Linked DNA regions of Homo sapiens: region 1 is linked to region 2. The links come from fine-mapping of genetic effects on gene expression. A gene starts in region 2. The other region holds a variant in brackets. All regions are shown on one strand. Distances are from middle to middle. Region 1 overlaps LAMC1 (laminin subunit gamma 1). Region 2 holds the start of LAMC1 (laminin subunit gamma 1).

Evidence for each region. PIP is the estimated chance that this variant, and not a neighbour inherited with it, causes the effect. A credible set is the group of variants that fine-mapping cannot tell apart.
Region 1: its variant is the best candidate, but not a certain one, in a credible set for the expression of LAMC1 in lung (TOPMed, PIP 0.81).

What each region holds. Positions count from the first base shown.
Region 1 is chr1:183,129,033-183,133,032 of GRCh38, reverse strand. LAMC1 (laminin subunit gamma 1) reads right to left here. Exons shown (of 28, transcript NM_002293.4): 19 at 2,484-2,689; 20 at 1,655-1,734; 21 at 496-633. Among named protein-coding and RNA genes, the nearest start is that of LAMC1-AS1, 10 kb to the left of the region's middle. The variant C/A (reference allele first, on the strand shown) is at 1,605.
Region 2 is chr1:183,020,843-183,025,334 of GRCh38, reverse strand. It overlaps LAMC1 (laminin subunit gamma 1), which reads right to left and starts at 1,915. Exons shown (of 28, transcript NM_002293.4): 1 at 1,201-1,915. The coding sequence starts at 1,618. RefSeq lists enhancers at 999-1,552, 2,108-2,662, 2,663-3,218, 3,956-4,455 and silencers at 1,507-1,646, 1,667-1,736, 1,787-2,176, 2,207-2,596.

The DNA of each region.
Region 1 (4,000 bases), 110 kb before region 2:
AGGCCGAGGCAGGAGAATCGCTTGAACCCGGGAGGCAGAGGATGCAGTGAGCCGAGATCGCGCCATTGCACTTTAGCCTGGGGGACAAGAGTGAGACTTCATCTCACAAAAACAACAAAAAAAAGAAAAAATTTTCTATAATGTATGGCTTACCATATACTTTCTTATTTCAGACACCCTTTAAAGATTTGTAGTTCAATTATGTTTCCTCTACTTACTCTATTATATTTTTTCTTCTTTATTTGTGCACAATTTTAAGTATCATGGCTCATCTTGTTACTATTCTCTGTAGTTACAGTAATTGAATCAAACCAAATCTCTGTGGCTTCACATGCCCTTCTCTACTTACTTTTCCATTTCAAAAGCATGATTAACAAAGGAAATCTTACTGCATGAATGTATGCCCTGAATGCACCAGCATTTAATTTTTCATTGAACTAGTGTTACTTACCAGAACACCTGAAGGGGTGTAAACCACTTTCAAATTATACTCACTTCCTATTAAGCTCTTCAATCTCAAATGCTGTTTGATTTTCTCCTGCCAGTGTCCTCAGAAGCAGGTTGTATGCCTCAGTTGACGTATCATTGGCTGTCTTTGCCACTCGAACAATGTCATCAGCTTCCTGTTTATGACTATACAGATAAAACAAAAAATAAGCCATGAAACAACCATCTGATAGGGACATAAGTAAAATTCAGGTAATGCTTACTTTATTATTATTATTATTATTATTATTATTTGAAATGGAGTCTCGCTCTGTCACCCAGGCTGGTGTGCAGTGGCGTGATCTTGGCTTATTGCAACCTCCGCCTCCCGGTTCAAGCAATTCTCCTACCTCAGTCTCCTGAGTAGCTGGTATTACACGCATACACACCATGCCCAGCTAATGCATCTTTAGTAGAGATGGGTTTCGCCATGTTGGCCAGGCTGGTCTCAAACTCCTGACCTTAGGTGATCCACCCGCCTTGGCCTCCCAAAGTGCTGGGATTACAGGCATGAGCCACTGCTCCCGGCCTACTTTATTATATGTACATATACTAACATGGGCAACAATTCTACAAATATTAGAAAACGTCATTCATTTGGAATTTTGTGATCATTTCAGTGGGGCTGAATTTATGAATAGCATTCTAAAACTGAGATGAGAATATTTTCCAAAAAAATTATTGGTATACATTTATAAGAGAAAATGTTTATAATTCTTCAGAAAAACTACTTTTAAATTTAATTATTTGAGAGTAATGTACATATAAAATTGTGTATGCCAGCAAGAAATCATTTACCTAGTTAAAAACAAATCCCATGCCTAATCTTTATTAACAACAATCTGCTAGTTTCATTCAGTTACTACAGTCTTAAATAAGTTAAAAATCTAAAAATATTATGGTTTTGAGAAATATAAATATGATTTGTCTTCAAACCATTGTATTCTAATATTCAAAGTGAATATTCTAATGTCAAAGTAAAAGGAAGAAAAGAGTATACACAGCTGATAATATCTTAGAAAAGAGAGCAAAGTGTGCAAAAGTGGGTTATGTAGAAAGTGTTTATGGGTTATGGGATAAGACAATACACACACACACACACACACACACACACACAC[C/A]CCATAACAGAAGCCACAACTTAACCATTAAACAGGGATCTAGAAGTTACCGTTCAGCAAGCTTTCGAGCCTCTTCTGCCAAAAGAGTCATGTTGTTTGGGTCCCCTGTAGATTCTGGCTGAGTGACTGACTGCACAGGAAATAAAGCACTTATTCTCAAAGGACTGAATTATTTACATTTAATAAAGCAAGAGTCAAAACTAAATTTTTGTTAGAGGGCAAAAAGAATGCCTCTACCTTTTTTTTTTTTTTTTTTGAGATAGTTTCACTCTTGTTGCCCAGGCAGAAGGGCAATGGCACAATTTCAGTTCACCGCAACCTCTGCTTCCTGGGTTCAAGTGGTTCTCCTGCCTTAGCCTCCCAAGTAGCCGGGATTACAGGCATGCACCACCATACCCGGCTAATTTTGTATTTTTAGTAGAGACGGGGTTTCTCCATGTTGGTCAAGCTGGTCTCGAACTCTCGACCTCAGGTGATCCACCCGCCTCGGCCTCCCAAAGTGCTGGGATTACAGGCGTGAGCCACCGCGCCTGGCCCCAAGAATACCTCTTCTTATTTTCAGAGATCTTTATTTAATATCAGCACCCTTGATTGCAGATTCTATTTTCAGTAAAGGATAAAGGAAGATTAAACTGCCTAGTTCCATAGAAGGAACAAAGCTAGAGAAATAACCCAGATGTCCCTTGGTTTTTATCCAGTTTTTAATAACTGTTTCATGCCAACTATGAGCAATGTGGCTTTTCTGCCCCATATTTAGGGACAAATAAAAAGATGCATGGAGTCAATTTAGTTGAAGAAGCACTCCACTGCCAGTAACAGACTTGCTACAAACCCCAGGGGCCTCCCCCATCCCCACCTCAGACGTTTGCAATCACTTACCACATTGGCAGCAGCGACTTTTGCTTTCTCAAGTTCTCTGGATGCGATTTCAATCAACCGCTCTGTGTTCTCTACATGGGCACGCGCTTGTTCAGCCAAGTTTCCAGTCTCTTCAATGGTATTCCGGATATTCTGTAAACGGCTAATTTGGCTGGACAGAGTGTTATTCACTCTCTGTAGGCGATCCATCAAATTCTGGTCAACATCTAAAATGGTTTGCAGAAGAAAGTCTGTAAATTATCTGAAGAGGATCATATCATCTCACATGAAATCTGAGGCCCTATGTATCTCTACTCTTCTAAACATCGCAACTTTCTGCCAGGTTTCCACAAAGCCCCTGCCATAGCTGGACAGCCTTTACCACACCCAGTAGGTCCTTCACTGTGCACTCATCACACCTCCAACCGTGCGTCCATCTGTCCACTTGACTACGAACTCTTTCTTACTCACCACTATATCGCTGGTCTTATGCAGTGGTTGGCAAAGAGAAGACACCCAAGGAATGTTTAATGAAGGTGAGAATGACTGACTTTAATACCAGCACATGCAATTTAGTCATAAATCTACAATGTTGTTAAAAATGCTGCCAGCCCTAAAAGCCGAACATTTTTCAAAACCCAGAAAAAACTAGGTTTAAAACATAAGTTGAAGTATGACAAATTAAACTCATTTTGTATTTTAAACTAAATAGACTCTTTTGCCACCCCCATGTGCCAGCATATCAGTGTAATTTCTTTCAAACTGATCTCTGTTTTTGAATAGTTCTTCAAATTATTCTTTATTAATATGCTCATTCAACTTAAATCTCATACTCAGGTCCTAACAAATCAAAAGATAAATATAAGTCTGTTATTATTAAAACTCTCATGTATCATGAGGTTTTATTAATATATAAAAACCATTAAGTAAATTGACCAATTCATATTTCAGCATCATGCTCGGTGTTGGGGTCTAAATTTTCTAAGGAATGTGGGAAAAAAAAAAAAAGATGAGAAGTCAAAGGTAAGACCAATGAAGATGAATACAGGTTTGGAAAAAACCAACTTGGAACTTGGCTACCAAATGTATGTGCAGAGGTGACATTCTACAAACTCTTGCCTAACTATATATGGTGGTCCTGCTTGGAAGGTTACTCAATTATTTGATAATGTAAAAATTTTTTGGCTGGGCGCAGTGGCTCAAGCCTGTAATCCCAGCACTTTGGGAGGCTGAGGTGGGCAAATCACGAGGTCAGGAGATCGAGACCATCCTGGCTAACACGGTGAACCGCCATCTCTACTCAAAATACAAAAAAATTACCCCGGGCATGGTGGGCATGTGCCTGTAGTCCCAGGTACTTGGGAGGCTGAGGCAGGAGAATCACTTGAACCCAGGAGGTGGAGGTTGCAGTGAGCCAAGATCGCGCCACTGCACTCCAGCCTGGGCAACAGAGTGATTGTGGCTCAAAAAAAAAAAAAAAAAAAAAAAGCTTATGAAGACGCATGCCTTTAATGATTTTTAAAACTATTTTAATATTT
Region 2 (4,492 bases):
TAAGTCCAATTCTTTCTCTGGAATCCTGATACTTACATAAAGTTTAGTGTACCGGAGAGCAGCAAAATCATGATCAAAAGAACCATTTGCCTACAACATGTTCCTTTCCAACACCCCTAAGTGATATTAGCCTTACAAAATTACCCTCCCTTGACAGAAGAATGGCTTGAGGCAGTCTGTTCTCTCTGGAAGTTCATTAGTACCAGCTACTGGTAATAATCAAGCCTTCCAAGGCAATGGGGAGTGAAGTGTTAAGTCAAACGTGTTTCTCACACATAGATTCCTCTGTTAAACACAATAATGAAACTTTCTGCCTATTTACGTATCTCAATGATGAAGAAAACCTTAGCTAGACCGAACATTATTTTTGGTGCTTCCAGATACATATGTCCATCCTCAATCCACTGCCCTGCCATGAAGTTTTCTACACATCCCTTTCCTGATTTCTGAAACATCACTTACACGTGTTTCTACAGTTGCTTTGAATGAAAGCAAAAGGGAAGACAGTAAAGGAGAGCCTTTTTACCCAGGGACAAGGCTATGCCCAGCAATTACAGTGAGTGCACTTCCTTTTGTTCATTCTGCACCAGGATTAGCAGTCAAATCGCTTTGTGGTTCTTAATTAAGGCTGAGCAGCTATAAAGAACAATAACTTCAAAAGTGAATTTATGTTTTAATTACACATAGGCAATATAGGCAGCGAAGGCATTTGCTCCCCTCAAATTCCCCCTTAACTCAACAGAGCAATCACCCTCAGCCCTGGAAGGACATCTAAACATTTTAAAGGCGAAAGTGTTTAAGGCGGACCTTCTTGTTTCCGATCCAAGAATGCGCTGTGATGACCTTGCTAGCAAAGAGAAAAGTGGGGATGGGAGTTTCTGATTAACGCTTCAGAAAAAAAAGGGGGAAATCACAATCCTAACAGCCGAAATGCAGAATAATCAGAGAGCCAGAATCCCGTTAAGTCAGAAAGAACAGGAAAGCAGAGAGACTCGTGCGGAACATCCTGGCCCTCACGGGATGTTAAAAGCAGTATCTATTTAAGAAGTTGGAGAAAGGAGTTTCTGTGTGGCCCATGCCGGGGAACAGAGAGCAAACACGCGGCCGTCTGCGCCCGTGAGGCCGGCCACTGGGACGGAGCCGGTCCGGGAGCTGGGCTGCTGGCGAGCAGTAGCAGGGGACGGGGCTGTCACCGCTTACCCAGGTGCAGCGTGAGGTTGATGGAGCTGGGGTACTGCACCCCGGCCAGCATGGTCTGGCTTTGCCACCAGGTGGTGTCGGCCTGGTTGTTGTAGTCGGTCAGGAAGGCTGCCCCGTGCTGCAGGTGGGGCTGCCCGGCGTCGCACAGGTGACAGGACTTGGTGACCCCGGTCACCCCGGTCTGCACACAGTATTCCTCGGGCGGAGTCCCACACGTGTTGGTGGCCACCACAGTCACGTTGAAGGCGGCGTTGACGAACTCGGGCATGCAGCGCTGCGGCCGCCCGCCCTCGTCCGTGCACTCGTCCATGGCTGCCTGGGCACAGCCCGCCGCGGCGGCCGCCGCCAGCACGGCCAGCACGGGCCAGAGCCGCCCCCGGGGCCGCAGGGCCGGCGCGGCCCGATGGCTCCCTCTCATCCCGCCGCCCGCACGCTGGGTCACGGCGAAGGCAAGGGCACCGGCGCGTTCCTCTCGCCTAGCGGCGTCCCCCGGAGGCCGCTTCGCTGCTTGAGCCTGGGGGCCCAGGGGCCTGACTCCGGCGCGGGCGGTGGCGGCGGCTCGCGCCGGAGAGACTGACGGGTGGGCGCCCCTAGCGAGGACCGCGCTGCTCGCCGACCACTGCCCCCGCGCGCCGCCTCCGCGCTTCCCTCACCTACCCCGGGAGCAGCCTGCACTCCGCGCCGACCCCCGACTTCCGAGCGCGTGCCCGAGTGCGCGCCCCCGGGGAGGAAGGAGCAGGGGGTGGGGTCGGCAGGGTGGGGTGGGGTCTGGGCGAGGAGAAAGCCCAACCCTGTCTCCTCTCAGCAACTCCCGCGGCCCCTGGGGCAACTCCCCGGCCCACCGCGCCCCATGGACTGCGCGTCCGCCCCGGCGACTCCAGGAGGCGGCGGGGGCGGGAGCAGCGGCGTCTCGCGCTCGGGCCCGCGGCGCGCGACCCGGGGGGAGGGGCGCGCGAGGTGGGCGGGGAGCCGGGGGAGGGGGTTGGGGGAGGGGAGGGGAGAGGAGGGGAGAGGAGGGGAGGGGAGAGGAGAGGAGGGGAGGGGAGGGCGGCTGGGTGGTGCATGCCGGGAGGGAAGGGCGGCCTCGCAGACCCGCTCCCCGCGCGGGAGTCGCTGGGGTCCTTGGGCTCCGCGGCCTGGGAGACTCCGGATTGCGGGAGGAGTCGGGGGAGGGCGCCTTAGAGGGGCGATGCCGGGTCAGGAGGTCGCTCGGGGTCGTCCCTGGGGCCTCGCGCCAATTTGGGCTGCGGCAAGAGGGTCCCCGCCCGGCCAGGTGTGGGTCCGAACCGGGAGCGCCCGCTGCTGCCCGGGGCCCCGCTCCAGCCCCTCCCGAACAGAGGTCCCGGGGCGTTCATGGGGCCGACACGGTCCCTGGAGAATCAGAAGGGCCTGGTCGCAGCAGCCAGATGAGTTTCGTGAAGCGATTTCCTGCCGCTGATTTAAAGTGTAACCAGTCGTTTTACCGGGGCAAGGAAGGAAGTGAAAAGGCTGGGAATGGAATGAATTTTTCCCTTGGGTACGCACGACCCACTGCGAAATTCTTCCACTGTGTTGTTTGTGTTCCTCGGCTTGCCTTTAAAAGACTCGAAATTATGTGGATTCTGACATCCTCCTTTTCGGGCCTGCTGAGTCACGGAATATTCTCAGTGCCAGAATGACTCAGTTCACAGAACCTGAGCCAGAAGATCATGAGTTTTAGTCCCGGAGCAGAACCTGGGCGCTTACCCAGTGCTGGATACGGCAAGCAGAGACCAGGGCAGGGAGGCAGCAGCTTGAAACCCTTGGCGTCCCCAAGCAGAGAGGATGCACATAGTGAATGACACGGATTTGTTTTGTTCTAGCTTTTCAGGAATTTAATGATAAAGTGCGGATAATAAGTACACCGCAAAAACAAAACAAAAAAACACATGCATAATTTCGGACCCAGTTGTCCCATTAAGATAGGCGTAATGGGAATCTGAAACAAGGAAATAAGTATATGTTAGGTGACTCTGGATAGTTAGGGTTAGTTAGACGCAGACTGCTGATTAGGAAAACCTTAAGGATAATGTTCTGGTAGGATGAAGAAGGGAGGGGAATCTAGGGTCTTGTTACACGGCTGAGCTTACTTAGCAAGTTATGTTCATCACTGTTCCGTTTATTTGATGAGATGGGTGGAGATTATGCATGGCTAAAGGTGCCTCATTCTTGGCACCTTCTCTTTGGGAGAATTAAGTTGTGGGGACTAATAATTTTTTAATCCTTTCATACATGAGTTGAAGCGAAATAAATACGTTCATTTACACCTAGAGGGGATTATATGCTCTCTCAGTCCTTCGTTGTACTTGAGGACAAACGTGGGCATATAGGACAAAAATAAGGATGTTAGTTGTGAATAAAGCTACAGATTTGTAATAAACTTGTTTATATTTTAATAAACATATTAGTGAATTTGCATTATTATACATTTTTAGTACTTTGTTATATAGTGGCCAAAGCGTGGGTCTCTATTTCCAACAATCAAAATAAAGACAAGGAGACCCCCAAAGGCTGTGAAATCAACATAAATGGGTTTGTCATTGCTGCCTTTTGAGTCCTAATGTCCAAGACTAACATCAAGATATTACTTATGCGAATTTTCCGTAACTTAATTACCAGAGCTTATCTGATATTTGTAAAGCACATAAAGAGACCTTGAATTAATCTCTCAATTCTCTTGCTTATGGAAATGTGTCACAGTGACAAACATCTATTTTGAAAAGAGGTAAAGTGTAACCAGCCAGTGGGCTTGATGATAAAAATTTTGCTCCGTTATTTGGATCTTGATTCAAACAAATCAACGGTTAAAACAAAATTTTTAAGACAATTTGAGAAATTTGAACACTAACCAGATGTTTGATGTTATCGACAAATTATTTTAGCCACCTAGAGATGCCACAGTCTACTAGACAGTATTTAAAGAAAAAAAGTGAAAGTGTGTAAGAATTTCTTTTACTGCAGGTTACCCTGTTTTTCAAAAAACTCCAGTCTTTTGAATGCACGTTCTTAAGTGCTTAGACATTTCATTATCAGCCGGGCGCGGTGGCTCACGCCTGTAATTCCAGCACTTTGGGAAGCCGAGGCAGGGGATTACTTGAGGCCAGGAGTTCGAGACCAGCCTAACCAATATGGTGAAACCCTGACACTACTAAAATTACAAAAATTAGCCGGGCCGGCTGGGGTCGTTGGCTCACGCCTGTAATCCCAGCACTTTGGAAGGCCGAGGCGGGTGGATTACTTGAAGTAAAGAGTTCTAGACCAGCCTAGCCAACAT